Homo sapiens: one gene and its partner. The protein of the gene in region 1 purifies or fractionates together with the protein of each later gene. This does not show direct contact. Each region holds a gene or a part of one and is shown in the gene's direction. Other genes may lie near its edges.

Evidence for each region. The genes of interacting proteins can lie anywhere in the genome.
Region 2: the proteins of GBP3 (region 1) and DECR2 purify together in Homo sapiens (affinity purification with mass spectrometry; one large-scale study listed by BioGRID and IntAct). This does not show direct contact.

What each region holds. Positions count from the first base shown.
Region 1 is NC_000001.11:89,012,023-89,017,326, reverse strand, and holds part of GBP3 (guanylate-binding protein 3), read left to right. Parts: intron 1-1,912; coding exon 1,913-2,040; intron 2,041-2,670; coding exon 2,671-2,780; exon of another isoform or gene 2,781-2,896; coding exon of another isoform or gene 2,897-2,922; intron 2,923-3,047; coding exon 3,048-3,244; intron 3,245-3,899; coding exon 3,900-4,142; intron 4,143-5,299; coding exon 5,300-5,304.
Region 2 is NC_000016.10:403,983-408,384, forward strand, and holds part of DECR2 (peroxisomal 2,4-dienoyl-CoA reductase [(3E)-enoyl-CoA-producing]), read left to right. Parts: intron 1-973; coding exon 974-1,042; intron 1,043-2,363; coding exon 2,364-2,415; intron 2,416-3,442; coding exon 3,443-3,578; intron 3,579-4,402.

The sequences.
Region 1 (5,304 bases):
TTTTTTTTGGCATGTGAGCATGTGAATATCCAGTTTTCCCAATGTCATTTGTTGTAGAGACTCCTCTTTCTGCGTTGAATGATTTTAGCATCCATGTTGAAAATTTTTTGACTATAGATGTGAGAGTTCATTTCTAGGCTCTCTACTTTACTCCATTAGTTGATAACAGTGTTTAAGCCAATACCAAACTGTGTTGATTATCCTGATTTTGTAGTAAGTTTCAGAACTCAGAAACTGTGAGCCTCTGACTTTCTTCTTCCTTTTTGAGATTATTTTGACAATTTGGGGATCTCTTGAAATTTCATATGAAAGTTAGTGTGGATATTTTTGATGTTTTTATTTATAAAAAAATCATTGGAATTTTGATAGGGATTGCATTGAATCTGTATGTCACTTTTACAGGATGTCTTTCTAATTATTTAACTCTTCCTTAATTTCTTTTAAGAATGTTTGGCCAAGCACAGTGGTTCACACCTGTAATCCCAGCACTTTGAGAAGCTGAGGCCAGCAGATCACTTGAGCTCAAGAATTTGAGACCAACTTGGACAACACGGGGAAACCCCATCTCTACAAAATATACAAAAATTAGACAGGCCTGGTGTCACGTGCCTGTAGTCTCAGCTACTCGGGAGGCTGAGGTGGGAGTATTGCTTGAGCCTGGGAGGTCAAGACTACAGTGATCAGTGATCACAGTCTAGCCTGGATGACACCGTGAGACTCTGTCTCCAAAAAAAAAAAATTTTGTAATTTTCATTATACAAGTCATTCCCCTCTATGGTTACGTTTTTTGGGTTTTTTGTTTGTTTGTTTTGTGACAGTCTTGCTGTGTCACCAGCCTGGAGTGCAGTGGCACAATCTCGGCTCACTGCAACCTCCACCTCCTGGGTTCAGGCAATTCTCATGCCTCAGCCACCCGAGTAGCTGGGATTACAGGTGCCCGCCACCACACCCAGCTAATTTTGTGTGTGTGTGTGTGTGTAGTTTTAGTAGAGACAGGGTTTCACCACATTGGCCAGATGGTCTCGATCTGCTGACCTTGTGATCACCTGCCTCAGCCTCCCAAAGTGCTGGGATTACAGGCGTGAGCCACTGTGCCTGGCCAATTTTATTCTGAAGTAGTTTGCCCTTTTGGTGGTATGTTAAATGGGATTGCTTTCAAAATTTCCTTTGTGGATTGTTCTTTGCTACTGTATACAAATGCAACAGATTTCTGCATGTTAATTTTGTATGCTGCAACTTTGCTGAATTCTTTTTATTAGTTCTAACAGTTCTGTGTAATATTTAAAGTTTTCTGCAGAGATCATATCATCAGTAAATAGAGATTATTTTACATCTTCCTTTCCAATTTAGATGCTTTCTGTTTCCTTTTCTCACCTAATTACTCTGGATAGGACCTCTAGTACTTTGTGGAAAAGAAGTGGCAAAAGTGGGCATCTTTTCCTTGTTCCCATATTAGAGGAAAATTTTCAGTCTTCACCATTGAGTATGAAGCAGGCTGTGGATTTTTCATGTATGTCCTTTGTTTTGTTGAGGTAATTTTTTTCTGTTTCTCTATCCCTCTTTTTTTTTTTTTTTTTTTTTTAAGACAAGAGTCTCGCTCTGTTGCCCAGGCTGGAGTGCAGTGGTGCTATCTCAGCTCACTGCAACCTCCGCCTCCTGGGTTCAAGTGATTCTCCTTCCTCAGTTTTTTTCTATTTCTAATTTGTTGATTGTTTTTATCATGAAAGGTCCTGAATCCATTTATGTACTGGATATTCAAATTTTTCTATTTTTCTGATTATAAGTAACGTAAGTACTGATTGTGGTTTTGGTTATCTCTCTTAACATTAATCATGATGCTACATTTGCCTCAATTTCCTGAAGTACCTGCTATTAAACCTCCAGCCCTTCTTATCCCATCTCTCCTTTACAGGCTTCTCTCTGGGCTCCACAGTGAAATCTCACACCAAAGGAATCTGGATGTGGTGTGTGCCTCACCCCAAAAAGCCAGAACACACCTTAGTCCTGCTTGACACTGAGGGCCTGGGAGATGTAAAGAAGGTAAGGGTCAAAGATTCAATTTTGAAATAAGCCCCTCATCTCTGAATATTTTAAGCACCATTTAGTTTTTTCTTAAAGAAGAGTTTGCATTTAACTATAATTTGTCTTTTCATTTCTGTGTACATGTCATAAGGCCAAACTTAGCAACCAGAAGTGAGAAAAATATTCATAAGACAGAATCCTAGCAAAGCATGGTGGTCAACACACAGTATTCTACTAACCATAGGTTGTAAGCTATGTGAGTTAACACAGATGCATAAAGGGAGCACAAATAAATCCAATGTCACGAGTCCTATCCTGCAAAGAACTTATAATTCAGTAGCCTGAGCAAGTTTAAATTATACTTCAGGCCTTAGAATGCCCATTAACCTTGAATGTTTATTTTGCAATTGTCTGCCAATGATCATAAGAGGACCTGGTGAGAATCAGTGTATACCAAAAAACACTAATCAAAAAACTATACACATTCCACAGCTGAGTAACAATCATTTTGTTTGGATTTGGGTTCTTTTCATAGGTCATTAGTCTTAAAAGAAAACTCTAACTTATGATATACTTTTACTACTGTCACTCTGGAAAGTGCTGTGATGATGAAACTTGCTCCTGACTCCAGTGTGTCTTGACTTCCAGGGTGACAACCAGAATGACTCCTGGATCTTCACCCTGGCCGTCCTCCTGAGCAGCACTCTCGTGTACAATAGCATGGGAACCATCAACCAGCAGGCTATGGACCAACTGTAGTATCCTTTTGTGACCCAGAACAGCACCAAGGTCAGAGGGGACACCTGTATTCATAAACCAGCTGCCTGACTGTGAATCCTGATGAATCAAGCTCAAAAGGAGAAAACAAAAAATAATGCAAGTACAGAGGAGAGATCCCATGTATCCACTTTAGAATTGACACTTAGGTTAGGATCAAAGGAAAATGGAAGGTTTGGGAATGTGTTGAACTAATATGGGATGAGGTTCCTGTTCATTTTGTCACATTTCCTTAGTTAGCTACTCAGCTATGTGACAGAGCTGACACATCGAATCCGATCAAAATCCTCACCTGATGAGAATGAGAATGAGGATTCAGCTGACTTTGTGAGCTTCTTCCCAGATTTTGTGTGGACACTGAGAGATTTCTCCCTGGACTTGGAAGCAGATGGACAACCCCTCACACCAGATGAGTACCTGGAGTATTCCCTGAAGCTAACGCAAGGTAACAGAGACGTACCATTGATAAATGAGGACGACAAAACACTAGAAATTATCATTTTTTAGTTTACTATTGATAGTTTTCTCACATTTACAGTTTTCTATATCTCTAGCTTGCTATTCTTAAGAATTAATGCTTGCTATTAGCAATAGAAAAGGTTTTTTGAAAAAAGGAAAAAAGGAATGAATGCTTGCTGAATATCTAAATTAATAGATTAGATTTTAAATTATATTCTCCTGTGTTCTAAAATAAGTTTCTTTTTCTTTCATTTTTTCCTATTTTACAATTTAGGTAAATTTTATCTCCTTATGTAGGGTTCGTGATTCTGTATTTACCTGTAAAATATGAAGGACAATGGATATTTACTTAAAGAACATAGATTGAACATGAACAGTGTACTAGTCCAAATGCTGGCGAACTGCAGCCTAAGACAAATGATGGCCAATTCTGCCTGCCAGCTGTCTTTCTAAGTGAGGTTTTTTGGGAAGAATGCTATGCCCATTCATTTACATATTGTCTAAAGCTGTTGTCATGCTCCAATAACAAAGTTGAGTACTTGGAAAAGAGACCACCTAGCCTGCAGAGCCTAAAATATTTACTATTTGACGCTTTACGGAAACACTTATATTAGGCAAATTTCTTTATTATGTTTCTCTAGGTACCAGTCAAAAAGATAAAAATTTTAATCTGCCCCGACTCTGTATCCGGAAGTTCTTCCCAAAGAAAAAATGTTTTGTCTTCGATCTGCCCATTCACCGCAGGAAGCTTGCCCAGCTTGAGAAACTACAAGATGAAGAGCTGGACCCTGAATTTGTGCAACAAGTAGCAGACTTCTGTTCCTACATCTTTAGCAATTCCAAAACTAAAACTCTTTCAGGAGGCATCAAGGTCAATGGGCCTCGTAAGTCCCCTTCGTAGTACTTCCACTCATTGTTAAAACTAAAGGATGGCCAGGCATGATGGTTCATGCCTGTAATCCCAGCACTTTGGGAGGCCGAGGAGGGCAGATCACTTGAGGCCAGGAGTTTGAGACCAACCTAGCCCACATGGCAAAACCATGTCTCTACTAAAAATACAAAAATAAATGAGGCATGGTGGCACATACCTGTAATCCCAGCTACTTGGGAGGCTGAGGCAGGAGAATTGCTTGAACCTGGGAGGCAGAGGTTGCAGTGAGACGAGATCACGCCACTGCACTCCAGCCTGGGTGACAGAGGAAAAAAAAAATATGAAAGGAGCATAGAATAACTCCACCTAGTATCAGCATTGAAAAATCCCAATCTACTGCTACATTTGTGCTAAATTCTAGATGACACCAACATTTCTAATAGATTTTGTTGGTCAACCTTCTTGGTGGGAAAAGATAGGAAAAGCAAAGGAAAAAAGTTTTATTACTTAAAATTGCCACAGTAAACTGGGCCTGCACTGTACAGTACAGTAGCCACTAGACAAGTGGGGCTATCTAAATGTAAATGTAAATTAATTAAAATAAGGAAAAATTAAAGGTCAATTCACATGGCTATATTTCAAAGGCTTATATTTACATGTACTTAGTGGCTAGCATACTGAACAGCACATACAGAACACTTCCACCATTACAGAAAGTTTTCTTGGACAATGCTGTGCTAAAATAAACCAAACGGAGGGCTCCTTTTGATTAGGAGAGTATCATTTGTTCCATAAGTATTGATCAAATGCTACTGTGAATAAGCTGAGGATACAGTCATATATGGAATAGCTATGGGTTCCTTTCCTGATGGTGCTTGGGGTTGAAATGGATGCAAACATTCAACTAACACAGGACTAGGTCATCTAGAACAAGGATTCTCAAATGTTGATATGCATACATATCATCTAGGGATCTTACCCAAAGAAAAAACTCTAATTCAGTAGATCTGGGACAGAGGCTAACAATAGGCATTTCCAGCAAGCTTCCAGATGATTCTGAGGACCTTGATGCTGTGAGGAAAATAGGTGGAAATTGACATGTTCAGAATTACACAGAATAGAGAGTTTTCTTTAGTACAAGAAACATTATCATTTCTTCTTTGTATGTAGGTCTA
Region 2 (4,402 bases), on another chromosome or scaffold:
CTAACACGGTGAAACCTCATCTCTACTAAAAATACAAAAAATTAGCTGGGCGTGGTGGCAGGTGCCTGTAGTCCCAGCTACTCTGGAGGCTGAGGCAGGAGAATGGTGTGAACCTGGGAGGAGGAGTTTGCAGTGAGCCTAGATCATGCCACTGCACTCCAGCCTGGGCGACAGAGCGAGACTCCATCTCAAAAAAAATAAAAAATAAATAAATAAATTAAATAAAATACTATAATTTTATGAATTTTCATTTTATTTATTTATTTATTTTTTAAGACCATGTTTCGCTCTTGTTGCCCAGGCTGGAGTGCAATGGCGCAATTTTGGCTCACCACAACCTCCGCCTCCTGGGTTCAAGTGATTCTCCTGCCTCAGCCTCCCAAGTAGCTGGGATTACAGGCATGCACCACCACACCCGGCTAATTTTTTATATTTTTAGTAGAGACGGGGTTTCTCCATGTTGGTCAGGCTGGTCTCGAACTCCCGACCTCAGGTGATCCGCCCGCCTTGGCCTCCTAAAGTGCTGTGATTAGAGGTGTGAGCCAAGGCACCTGGCCGAATTTTCATTTTAAATCATTGCCGTATAGCAATATGGGAGGTGTATTTTAACAGGGCTCTTTTATTTTTTATTTATTTTTATTTTATTTTATTTATACATATTTTTTGAGACGGAGTCTTGCTCTTTTGCCCAGGCTGGAGTGCAGTGGTGCGATCTCGGCTCACTGCAACATCTGCCTCCCGGGTTCAAGCTATTCTCCTGCCTCAGCCTCCCAAGTAGCTAGGACTACAGGCACCCACCACCACGCCCAGCTGATTTTTGTATTTTTAGTAGAGACGAGGTTTTACCATATTGTCCAAGCTGGTCTCGATCTCCTGACCTTGTGGCCCACCCACCTTGGCCTTCCAAAGTGCTGGGAGCCACCGGCCCGGCCCAATAGGGCTCTTTTAAAAGAGCCTCCTTTTTTATTCTCAGGGACAAAGTGGCCTTCATCACAGGAGGCGGCTCTGGGATTGGGTTCCGGATTGCTGAGATTTTCATGCGGTGAGACTGCTCTGTGTCCCTTCCCTGCTCCTCGCTTCTCCCTGCCCGGGCCCTGCTGGATGCCCGACCCCTGGAAAGATGTTGGTGGGAGGTAGATGTCCCCTGCTCACCTACCCGACAGGATCCAGGTGCCTGCCAGAGGGACTGGGGAGCGGTCGAGGATTGCCCTGGGGGGAGTCAGGACTTCAAGGCCCCTACAGGTCAGTGGAGATTGTGTGGCTCTGGTCTGGGGCCTGCTGGGACCTCGAGAGTCAGGGCTGTGTCGGGCCCCAGTGCTGGCGCCCTGCAGAGCACATTTTCTCCTGGGACACAATTCTGTGGCTTCAGGCCAGGGTCAGCAACTTATCCCACCTGACAGTGGCTAGAGTTAGGCTGGGGTGGGGGAAAGGGACCCTTCCTCAGTTCCCCTGAGGCCCCTGCTTTTCAGACCAAAAAGGTGAGTCCCACAGGAAGAGATATGGCCTTTCCACTGGTGGCTTTGTGCTCAGGGCATCTGAGGACCAGATGGGACATTGCAGCTCCAGTGGGACCTGCCTAGCAGGGGTAGCTACCTTTATGGTTATTGTGGGCAAGCAACCCCCGAACCAGAAGAGCCGAGAAACCAAAGAACAAGGCAGACAGATCCCGTTTGTCTGTGTCAGGTGATTTTACCAGGGAATTTGTGGGCAGAAGCGTAGTCTTGGGTGGCTGTGAGACGGGCGTCTCCATGCTGTTACCCCCAGGCCCAGGGCTTCTATACCACAGGGAAAGGGGTCCTGCTTCAGAGGGAGTGTGTAGGAATTTGTTTAGGATAACATCAAGGTGGTTTTGACCTAAAGGCAGGACTTCTTTGTGCTCTTTCGCAAGAACAGTAGATAAGCTGGAAATCCTAGCGGCATTCCTGGAACCAGGGTTCATAGAGGCCAACGTGGTGGATTCGCATCCACGTGGTCAGGAAGGGGAGCAGGGAGCACCCCGCTTCAGAACAGTCCTCCACGCCAGCCCCACAGGGAGAAGGGGGTGGAGAATGTGGGCCCAGCAGGCCCCAGGCAGATGTGTGGGCTGGGCGTCTGTGGCTCACAGCTGTCTCTGTACCTGGTGTTTGGGGCAGGACCCGCAGGCCTGTGCGGTGGGATGTCCCATGCCAGAAACCCCGGGGTGGGCACCACCTGAGGTCCCTCCAGAGTACCTCAGTCCTGTTCACGCCCCTGTGCCCTCTGCCAGCTGGGCCTTCAGCCTGGACTGGTACTTCCGCCTGAGAGACTCCTGCTCAGGAGCTGGGCAGATGCCCCGGGAGTGCCCCTCGCCCACACTGCCCTCACACCTGCTTCTGGTTTTGCAGGCACGGCTGCCATACGGTGATTGCCAGTAGGAGCCTGCCGCGAGTGCTGACGGTGAGAGGGCCTCTCCCATGGTCCCCTGTTCGGGTGGCTGTGGGGGGGCTGGGGCTGGGCCTGGGCCAGGAGAGTCCAGAGGCTATGGGGATGTTGGCACCAAAACTTTTTTTTTCTGAGACGGGAGTCTCGCTCTGTCACCCAGGCTGAAGTGTGGTGGTGCGATCTCGGCTCACTGCAGCCTCCACCTCCCAGGATCAAGCGATTCTCCTGCCTCAGCCTCCGGAGTAGCTGGGACTACAGGTGCCCGCCACCACGCCTGGCTAATTTTTGCATTTTTTTGGTAGAGATGGGTTTTCACCACGTTGACCAGGCTGGTCTCGAATTCCTGACCTCAGGTGATCCGCCCACCTCAGCCTCCCAAAGTGCCAGGATTACAGGTGTGAACCACTGTGCCCGGCCGGCACCTCAGCCTCCCAAAGTGCCAGGATTACAGGTGTGAATCACTGTGCCCGGCCGGCACCTCAGCCTCCCAAAGTGCCAGGATTACAGGTGTGAACCACTGTGCCCAGCCGGCACCAAAACTTGCACCTATCCTAAATATGGAGCTTCAGTGTAAGTGGCCTCCCAGAGACATCTTTGACTTTTTAAAAAATCTAGTTATTGGGTTCTGGGAGGGACCTTCCTGTTTGGGGGTAATGTGGCCCCAAGAAAGACCTCTGGGCTCACCTGGGTTATTTAGGTGGTCCGTGCGTCCCACCTACTGGAGCCCTCGACCTGGGAGGAGAGTCTCACCTGTGCCACCTCTGGTCTGCAGCAGGGGCAGGACATGGGTGACAGTGGCCTGGAGGGCGACGCAGAGGGAGGATTCTAGGACAGGTGGCAGGTGGGGGGAGAGCGTGGCAGGTTCCCACAAACATCCACTGGGGTCGTGGGCACTTGCAGGCTGTGCTTCCCCAGAGTGGGGTCCAGCAGCAAACCCAGGGTCCCCGAGGAACCCGGAAGCATCGTCCTCTGCAGATTCCAAAGGCCTTTTCTCCAGGCCGAGGCTGCAGGGCTGCTGTCTGCCTCTTTACCTGGCTTCTAGGCCGCCAGGAAGCTGGCTGGGGCCACCGGCCGGCGCTGCCTCCCTCTCTCTATGGACGTCCGAGCGCCCCCAGCTGTCATGGCCGCCGTGGACCAGGCTCTGAAGGAGTTTGGCAGAATCGACATTCTCATTAACTGTGAGTCGGTGCTGAGTGAGGTTGGTGGCTTCTCACAGGTTGGTGGTACCATTTGGAGGCCCTAGAACTCTGGTCATGGGGTGGGGACCATGCCAGGGAACCTAGCTGCCTGTGCTGGGGTGGGCTGCACCCCATCCAGGTACCTGAGGCCAAGACTCAGGCTCCGGCCCCCTGTCTCCGGCCCCATCTCCGGCCCCCTGTCTCCGGGCCCCTGTCTCCGGGCCTCTGTCTCCGGGCTCTGTCTCCGGGCCTCTGTCTTCGGCCGCATCTCCGGCCCCCTGTCTCTGGGCCTCTGTCTCCGGGCGTCTCTCTCCGGCCCCATCTCCGGCCCCCTGTCTCCGGGCCTCTGTCTCCGGCCCCATCTCCGGCCCCCTGTCTCCGGGCCCCTGTCTCCAGGCCTCTGTCTCCGGCCCCCTGTCTCCGGGCCCCTGTCTCCGGGCCTCTGTCTCCGGCCCCCTGTCTCCGGGCCCCTGTCTCCGGGCCTCTGTCTCCGGCCCTCTGTCTCCGGGCCCCTGTCTCCGGGCCCCTGTCTCCAGCCCCCTGTCTCCGGACCTCTGTCTCCGGGCCCCTGTCTCCGGGCCTCTGTCTCCGGCCCCCTGTCTCCGGGCCTCTGTCTCCGGGCCTCTGTCTCCGGCCCCCTGTCTCCGGCCCCCTGTCTCCGGGCCTCTGTCTCCGGGCCTCTGTCTCCGGCCCCCTGTCTCTGGGCCTCTGTCTCCGGCCCCATCTCCGGCCCCCTGTCTCCGGGCTTCTGTCTCTGGCCCTCTGTCTCTGGCCCTCTGTCTCCAGGCCTTTGTGTCCCGCCTTCTGTCTCTGGCCCTCTGTCT